Regions from separate parts of the Homo sapiens genome. Here region 1 is linked to region 2. The links come from fine-mapping of genetic effects on gene expression. A gene starts in region 2. The other region holds a variant in brackets. All regions are shown on one strand. Distances are between the middles of the regions. Region 1 overlaps MARCHF6 (membrane associated ring-CH-type finger 6). Region 2 holds the start of MARCHF6 (membrane associated ring-CH-type finger 6).

Region 1 (4,392 bases), 74 kb after region 2:
GAGTGTGATGGATTGGGGGCTTCTGGCTTCATATCCCTTCAGGATCAGAGTGCAGGCCAGTACACTCTAGAATGGCCAGGTTAGCCTCTGGCCCTTGAAAAAGGAGCATGGAGATGGGATTTATTCATACTGGAGGCTGTGGAACATCATTGATCTTCTAAATAATTTGTTATCTTATTCATTGTTTTCTCTTGCGTATGTGCGTGTGTGTCTCTGTAAATTTAAGAAAAATGGTTGGAAATGGTTGAGAAACACTGGGATGCCTTGCTTCATTGATTAAAATGCATTTGGGTTAACTAGGTGTCTTTGGGAATGGCAGCATGCCTTTAAAAGGTTAAGCATGTTTGCCATTCAAATTCCGAGGTGATGGGGTTGAGTTATGCTACATTCAGTCACAGCTAAGAGAGGTTTAAGTGCTGCTGGTGAGGCAAGAGGAGAAGAAAATAACAGCCTTCTAAGCCTTGTTTCTGTCTGCACTCCATCTAAATTTTCTGTTCCCAGGGTTTTCCCATTTCCATCCATTCTTTCCTCTGCATTACTCTTGTAGAATTTTCTGGATAAGATGATGGAAATATTCTAGTAATTCTTGGACTTGCTTTTTTTATATTCACTATAGAATTCTTTCATACTAAATTTTTAAATACCTTTTGATTTGTTAAAATTTGATTTATGCAAGCTTTTCAGAAACGCTTCCTGCTTCAGTGTTTTCTCATCATACTCAGATAAAATGAATGCAATATTGTATAATAACACAATATTACATATTACGTATCTCTTTCATAAGATGTATGAAGTTACTTCAAGTAATGTGGTCTTGAATGAATACCACTGAATGTCATCTGGTATTGTATAGTGCAAGTAGAGTATAAATTATTCTAGATTAGTGTCTTATTTCATCACTTAGCAGAGCTAACTGCAGAGCGTTAGTGGGTAAATACATTTCTTCAGAAACTCGTGGGCACTATGCTTATGTTGATATACCAGAATTTGCCTTGACTTTAGAAGAAGTAACCAGTTTGACTATTTTTGGGTTGGCAGATTCAGTTGTGTGGAGATTGCTGTATTAACTTGGAGGAATTTGTCTTGTATCTTTGTTCTAATTGCTTTTTGTAATGTTTCAGGTTTACGCAAATGGCATCCGGAACATTGACCTTCACTATATTGTTCGTAAACTGGCAGCTCCCGTGATCTCTGTGCTGTTGCTTTCCCTGTGTGTACCTTATGTCATAGCTTCTGGTGTTGTTCCTTTACTAGGTACGTAATGCTGGTTGTGGAGCCTTGAAGGAGCACTTTTATTAACATTGGACATTCTCTTTACCCCTAGTAAAAAGGATGTCTCACTCCATATGCTTTATTTGTAAATGTGAATCCAGCTAAGACAATGATTTCAAAATACCACTTTTCTTAGATTTGACTATTCTGGGTAAGATTAGAGGATCATAAAGCTCTTTGATACAGTTCTTTTCTCTACCAGAAGATAAAACTTGAAATTTACATGCTGTACAAAATAGGCAGGATCAGATTTCCTTCAGGTTGTCTTCTTCTGACTAGAAGTGCTGTGATCATATAAAATTAAGTAACAGTGTTGTTGTATTTAAGTTTTAAAGAAATATTCTTTGGCATAAAAGATCCAAAGAGGAGATGCTAATGGGCAACACGTTTATACTGAAATACACTGTCTTGTTGATTGTGTAGTGAAGACTCCTCATAGCTCCTTAAACCCAACATATTTTCAAAATTATAAGCAGAGACTTTTCCTTCCCAAATCTTTTTCTTCTCCAGAATTCCGTCTCTCAGCAGCAAACATTATCATCCAACAAATTGCATAAGTCAGAAACCTTGAAGGCTATCCATGTCACCTTATTCTGTCCTCCATGTCCCTCTGGTCTCCAAGTGTCCCATTCTTCCCTGAAGAATCTGGTCTCTCGTCTCTGGAGCCTTTGCTCCTGACTTTTGTTGAGTCATTCGTCTCCTACCCTAACTTTGGCACCTTCCTATCTGGTTTCCCAGCCTTGAACCTGCCATCACTAATTCCTTCTCCACACTGGGCACAATGACCTTTCAAAAGAATGAATCTCATTGTACCTCTTTGGTGAACATTTTTTTCATTGGTTCCTCTGTGGCCTTTAATGCAGTCCAACCTTTTGGCATAGTTTACAAGGCTCCTCCTTTTGCTTTGATGTGGGCTTCAGTTTGACCTCACTCCATGTCATATACTCTGAGTTTTGATTAAACAACCATGGAATGGCCTCTTATCAAACACACAATGTCCTCTCCATAACTGTCTCCACATTTTCATTTGTCTTATCCATCTGCCAGAAATGACCCCGTCCTCCCTTTAACCGTGAGAGAGGAGCTTAA[A/G]AAAAACACACAACCAAACTTGCAGTGTAACATGTATACTTGTATGTTACCTTACTAGGTCAAGAAATAGAACTTTTCCAGCCCTTTGGAAGCCCTTTGTGTGTGTGCCCTTCTTTACCTTTTGCCACTGGTTTGACTTCTAATAGTCTCATTGCTTCTTAGACAGTAAAGATATTAGCCATGTGCAGTAGCTACTTGGGAGGCTGAGGTGGGAGGTTGCTTGAAGCCAGGAATTGAAGACCAGTCTGAGCAACATGGCGAGACCCAACCTCTAAAAAAAATAAAAATAAATTATCTGGGAGTGGTGGCGCACACCTGTAATCTCAGCTGCCCTGCAGGCTGATGCAGGAGGATTGCTTGAACCCAGGAGTTCAGGGCTAACCTCAGGTTGTGACACTCCAATCTAGCCCAGGCAACAGGCCAAGACCCTGTCTCAAAAAAAAAAAATTGCTCAACACAGGTTTGTATAGAGAGAGGCTGAGCAATGTATCCCTCAGTCTGCAGGATGGCATGGGAAACAGGGAACAGTTAAGCTGAGGGCCCACAGTGTGCAAACTGCATCATTTCCTGGTTCCTTCTAAGTAGAAACTTCAAGGCTTTTATTTGGTTTGAATTGTGACTATGCCAAGTATCATAAATACCATATTAAAATGCAAATATATATTTCCTGCAAAATATATTTCAAAGCCCATTGCTTTTTAGTTTTTTTTTTTTTTTTTTTTTTTTTTGAGAGACGGAGTCTCGCTCTTTTGCCCAGGCTGGAGTACAGTGGTGCAGTCTCGGCTCGCTGCAACCTCCACCTCCTGGGTTCAAGCGATTTTCCTGCCTCAGCCTCTTGAGTAGCTGGGACTACTGGCATGCGCCACCATGCCCAGCTAATTTTTGTCTTTTTGTTAGAGACAGGGTTTCACCATGTTGGCCAGGCTGGTCTTGAACTTCTGACCTCAGATAATCCACCCCCCTCGGCCGCCCAGAGTGCTGGGATTACAGGCATGAGCTACCACACCCAGCGCATTGCTTATTAGTTGAATACGTCTTTAAAATTAAATTATTTTGACTCTTTAGAACAATCTCTTTACTGGTTTTGTCTAGAGTAGGAATGCCCTATTTTCTTTTTTATTCTAATTAGCATATATTATGTTCTGCCCATTAATAGTATATAGACTTAAGAATTTGGATTTCCAACCCAGTCATTCATGTTTTCATTTTTAAAAATTTTATTGTGAGCATTTCTGGAAAGACTTTGGAAGGGAAAAAGAGTGGCAAATGAAAAATGTTGGTACCTGTTTTGCCCTGTTTAGATGCTTTATGTAATTCTTACATGTTATTCTTAGGGTAGCTTTTTAATATGTTTTGTCAACTCTGTTTTAGAAATGGGAAATTGAGGTTCATAGAGATTGAGAATCTTACCCCAAAGTCTGGTTTTTAAGGAGTAAGAGCAGCATTCAGATTTCAAACTCAGCTCCAGAGCTTATGCACAGCACACTATTGTGGTGTTTGGAATAATCCACCTGACGGTATTAATTTTCTGAATTCCTCGAAAGTACTTGCTCTGATTTTAAAGCCCCCCAGTCCCCTCTGCCAAAGAAGTATTAAAACTCATGAGTTAAATATAGAAAAATAAATACATGTGTGTTCTAAAAGTTTGAGGATTTTTTTATTATATAAGCACAGTTTTGGTTTTGCTTCTTTAAACTGTGGTGCAGTAGAAATGTATCAATGACACCACTGCTTGTGGAACATGAGAAGTCATCTCGTCCAGTTCCTTTTTTTTTTTTTTTTTGAGGCAGGGTCTCACTCTGTTGTCCAGGTTGGAGTGCAGTGGCTTGATTGATCTCGGCTCCCTGCAACCTCCACCTCTCAGGTTCAAGCGATTCTCCCACCCCAGCCTCCTGAGTAGCTGGGACTACAGGTGCAACGCCACCACACCTGGCTAATTTTTGTATTTTTTGGTAGAGACAGGGTTTTACCATGTTGGCCAGGCTGCTCTAGAACTCCTGACCTCAAGTGATCCGCCCGCCTTGGCCTCCC
Region 2 (4,392 bases):
AAGCCAATGTGCAGAGAGAGTTGCAGAGCTGAGCCATAGGGGCAGAGGCATTCTCGTTCTAGTAGTCCCAGCAGTCCCTCCCCTTCTTGGAGTCTGTCCATATCAACAGTACATTCCTCCCTTCTGCCTAACAGTTGAGTTCCTGTCAATGGCAACCAAGAGAGGTGTGACTGATTCATGTATTCAAAGGGCTGTTGTGAGAACTTGTGCCTGACTCACAGTGGGGACTCAACAAATGTTGGTTTATTACTCTTATATTTAACGCCTAAAGTCTGAATGCGAAAAGGTTAGGGCAATTCCAGAAGGAATTACTATGCAGAAGGGAAAACTGGTTGACAGGTTAACTTTCCTTTGAACATCACAAGGGAAGGCACCTAAATACAAAAGGAAGGCTTCCTCCACGCCCCCCATACACACACATTCCCTTCATCCTAACCTGGCTCTGCAGCTCCGAGGGTCACATACCTGCCCTTGGCACTACTAGTACTTCCTCCAGCAAGTCTCAGTCTTTCTTTCAGAATCCTTCGCCCTTATGCCATGTAACATCTGATCGGCCCGGTCTTTGCCCCTAGTATCAGCAGGCCAATACGTGCTCTGCTACAGGTCTTACAGGGAGGGTGAGCTCTTGGAGTTGGATCAGAAGGAGAGGGGCTGGGGAAAGATCGTCTTCAAATTGTTTCTTTGGCGGTAGTATATATAAACATATTTAGGCAGGGCATAGTGGCACATGTCTGTAACCCCAGCACTTTGGGAGGCCGAAGCGTGAGGATCGCTTAAAGACAGGAGTTGAAAATCATACTGGTCAATATAGTGAGATTGCAGTGAGCCATTATCGCGCCACTGCATTCCTGCCTGGGTGACAGTGCGAGACCCCTTCTCAAAAAAAAAAAAAAAAAAAGAAAGAAAAAAATCATAAGCAAACAACAACAAAAAAACAAATATAAAGAATGGCGGTCTGCTTAATTCTCCGTGCCAGCCCTTGAAATCAGTGGGTATTATTATGTAGAGTTTGAGTTCTTTCCTCCCTTGAGTAACATGAGTGACATCAGTAACATTAGTCAAGCGCTGCTCTTTTTGAAAGACTGTATTTCATTATTTTTATTCTAAACCTTACTCTGTTTGATGAAGATTGGGGGAAGAGCCCTCCCAATTCCACCGCTCACACATAACAGCGGTTGCTAGCATTCTTTATTTGTGCTAGGTCATCTGCATATTGTTTAAACATTTTTCGAGGCTGGAAAGACTGCTCCCACTCAGGCAATTCTGACGTGGCGGCCCTTCTAATTTATATTCTCTAAATAATTCTTCATTTAGAGAAAACAGTCAGGGATTACAGTGAGGGAGGGTGACGTGCTGACGGGGACAGAGCTTGGCTTTTGATCATTCTCCCCTTAGCTCTGCCCAGGCAAGCGTCCCTAACTCAGGGTATCGGAACCGATCTCCCTTAGAGGATTATGTTTCAACCACCAGCCTCAGCGGTTTACTCAAATGTCCTTCCAGCCAAATGCAGAAGTCTCCCTGGGAGTAATTTTGGTGAAGTCAGCTTTTGCCTTTTTCATCACAGGCAGGCTTTAGTAGTTCCTCAAAACGTGCACCACAACTGCCCGGCTGCCAAACAGAAATGCTGATGCCTGGGCCCACTCTAGCCATTTGGCCTCGGCATCACGGTGCGGGAGCGTGGGGCGCAGACTCGCATTGTCACAGGAACCTCCCGGCCTTCCGAAGAGCCCCGCGCCGGGGCCTTTGTCTCGCACGTCGGCTGGGGCGGGAGCTAGGTTCTCGCAGCCTCCTCCCACCGCTCTGCGCCTTCTTTGTCCCTCCAGAAGCCGCCATCAAAGCTCAGCTCCTGATTAGGTTTCGGCCCCGCTGGCCGGCGCAGTCTCGGCGACTACCCCAGGCGGCCTGGCGCACGCGAGGATTCGCCGCGCCCCAGATGCAGGTGCCTCCCCTCCTTAGCCGCCGACCGACAGTGCACGCCGCGGCCGCCGGAAGTGACAGCGCCTGTCGTTGGGGAGCTCCCGCCCCTTCCGCCTCGGCGCCCCGCCCAGGCCTCGCCCCTAGGTGTTCCCGCCCCTCCCCCTCCCGTGTCGCTCGCTTTCTGTCAGCCTCTCTCCCTCTCCCTCTCCCCTCTCCTTCCTCTCGCTTCCTCTCTCGCACCTGAGCGTACGCACCTGCCCGGGCCCGGCTCCCTCCTCCTCTCCCCTCCCTCTTTCCCCGCCCGGCCGCGGGAGCCTCGTGGCTGCGTCACCGCCGCCCCCCCAGACAAGATGGACACCGCGGAGGAAGGTAAGTCGGCGACGCGCGGCGCCCGAGCCCTTGCGTCGGCGCCCGGGTTCGTACCCCGGCCAGGTCCGCGGCGCTCGAGGTGGGCTGCTGGATCGCGGCGGGGCGGACGCCTGGGCCGTTTGTCCACCCGCTGGGCCTCTGGGCCGGGGAGCGGAAGGTGACCCTCTGCGCGCCCCCCGCCGTTTCCCGCCCGCGCCGCCGAGGGGGGCGGGGACCCTGCCGGGCAGGGGCCGGGGCCGGGGTCGGGGCCTCGGGGCTACTGCAGGCCGGCGTGGCCTCCCTTGTCCCCGCCGTCGCGCGCTGGCCCAGAAAAGGGGGCCTCTGTCGCTGCCGTCCGGGGGCGTTTTCCGCACCCTTCCCCCACTGGGTTTTGTCTTTCTTTACGTCCTTCTGCCTATTGCTCGCCAGGCCCTACCCCCTCGCGACAGAACTTCTTTGTTGACTTTGAAACTTCGCGAAAAATACCCCGCCAGATGACGGCCGAGTGGAGTGAGCTGACCCCTGTTGAAAAGCCTGGTCCTCGGCTTGCCTGCCGCTCGAGAATCTGTTTACTAAACGGGGAGGCTCTTTTGTTGCGATCCATTTGGTTTTAAATCCTTGACACCTATAAGCAGGGTTCTGTTTGTTTTGTTTTGCGATTGCTTGTGTTTTGGATACGGTTACATTGAACAAACTGACCCTTGTAAAATGAATACTTAAGATATAAACGTCCACACCTTATGTCTCTTCAAACGCATTTTCTTACCCACTGAAGGTAGTAGATTATTTTTAACCAGCTGTGTTTTTAAATGAGTGGTGAGTTTATAGAGGAAATTACTAAATTTTGCTTTTTTTGATGTTCCGGTTATCGTGCAAATGCTTTTCTACTTTAGGTATATTTATGGGGGTATGAGCGTCTTTCAACCTTATGGGTTGCGATTTTGGCGATTTTAAACGAAAATGAATTATCAAACGCCGTCATGGAGTGCAATAATGAGTGAAAAAAGTTTGATATTATCTATGTAATGAGTTGATAACGACTTATTTTTTTTTAAAGAAGTCTTGCCTTTAATAAATACCTCAACTATAACATGTGGCACTTGATGTACATTCGCGTTCCATCTTCGTAAAAAGCCTGTGGAATAGGTAGGTATTATCTTTTATAGATGTGGAAATGTAGGCTTCGTTATTTTAATAGCTTGTCGAAGCTTTACACAGGTAGTAAGAGGCAGATTTGAACCTAGGCATTCTGATTGCAAGTAATTTCCCTTTCATTATGCCACAGTGTGTTTATTATATACACTGAGTGTAGCTAATCGCCACTGGAGACGCCTTTGGAAAAAATAGTAAAGCGAAACTGCTGAAGGTTGCGAACTATTTCTTTTTGACAGGTGGTCCTTGCGTGTAAATTTCCATCTACATAGGTTTCACATCCTTTTAGATTCAGGTTTTAATGAGTAAATCTAGTAAGGCATGTATTTATCACAGGATAGGTACGGACGTATTACATTCAATTCTCATTCTTTTGGCCTGGGCATTGCTACTTGCATACTTTTATGGTGTGACAGTAATCTGTGGTAATTCAGGAATTGCGCTCGAAGCACGTATGGAATCATGAAATATTTTCACTGTACTTCTAGTGCTTAAATATATTTTTTCTCTTGTAAAATTATAATCAGGATAAGGTATACATAACATTTATTTATTGAACACTGTTGCCTGTTAAAATAACATGTGCTGAAGACTCAACGTGTAGTATGTGCTTTACTAAACACTTTATATACATTTCATTTAATTCTCTCACATCGTTAGGTAGTCGGCATTTTCATTTTACAGATGAGGAAACTGATGGTTAGTATGATTAAGTAACTTGTCCAGGATAATACAGGTAGTAAATGGCAGAGGCAAGATTCAGACTCATGTCTGTCAGAGTCGCACTTAAATTAGATTATTTATTTATGAGTGTATACTACAAGTCCAATGTTGAAATTTATTTTTGTCACTCCCTCTATAGGATGAATCATTTATATAATTTGGTGGAAACTTTATTTTGCTTTATTTTGTTTTATGAAATTATTAGTCATGAAATGCAAGTGAATTTTAGTGCCGTATTCTCATGCCTGCTTT

The links. PIP is the estimated chance that this variant, and not a neighbour inherited with it, causes the effect.
Region 1: its variant is the best candidate, but not a certain one, in a credible set for the expression of MARCHF6 in whole blood (TOPMed, PIP 0.66).

Annotation. Positions count from the first base shown.
Region 1 is chr5:10,425,269-10,429,660 of GRCh38, forward strand. It overlaps MARCHF6 (membrane associated ring-CH-type finger 6), which reads left to right. Exons shown (of 26, transcript NM_005885.4): 24 at 1,122-1,254. Among named protein-coding and RNA genes, the nearest start is that of ROPN1L-AS1, 14 kb to the right of the region's middle. The variant A/G (reference allele first, on the strand shown) is at 2,362.
Region 2 is chr5:10,351,632-10,356,023 of GRCh38, forward strand. MARCHF6 (membrane associated ring-CH-type finger 6) reads left to right here and starts at 2,064. Exons shown (of 26, transcript NM_005885.4): 1 at 2,064-2,286. The coding sequence starts at 2,268. It overlaps MARCHF6-DT (MARCHF6 divergent transcript), which reads right to left and starts at 2,426. Exons shown (of 3, transcript NR_183261.1): 1 at 2,341-2,426; 2 at 1-142. RefSeq lists enhancers at 1,623-1,882, 2,729-3,300 and silencers at 2,023-2,162, 2,203-2,672.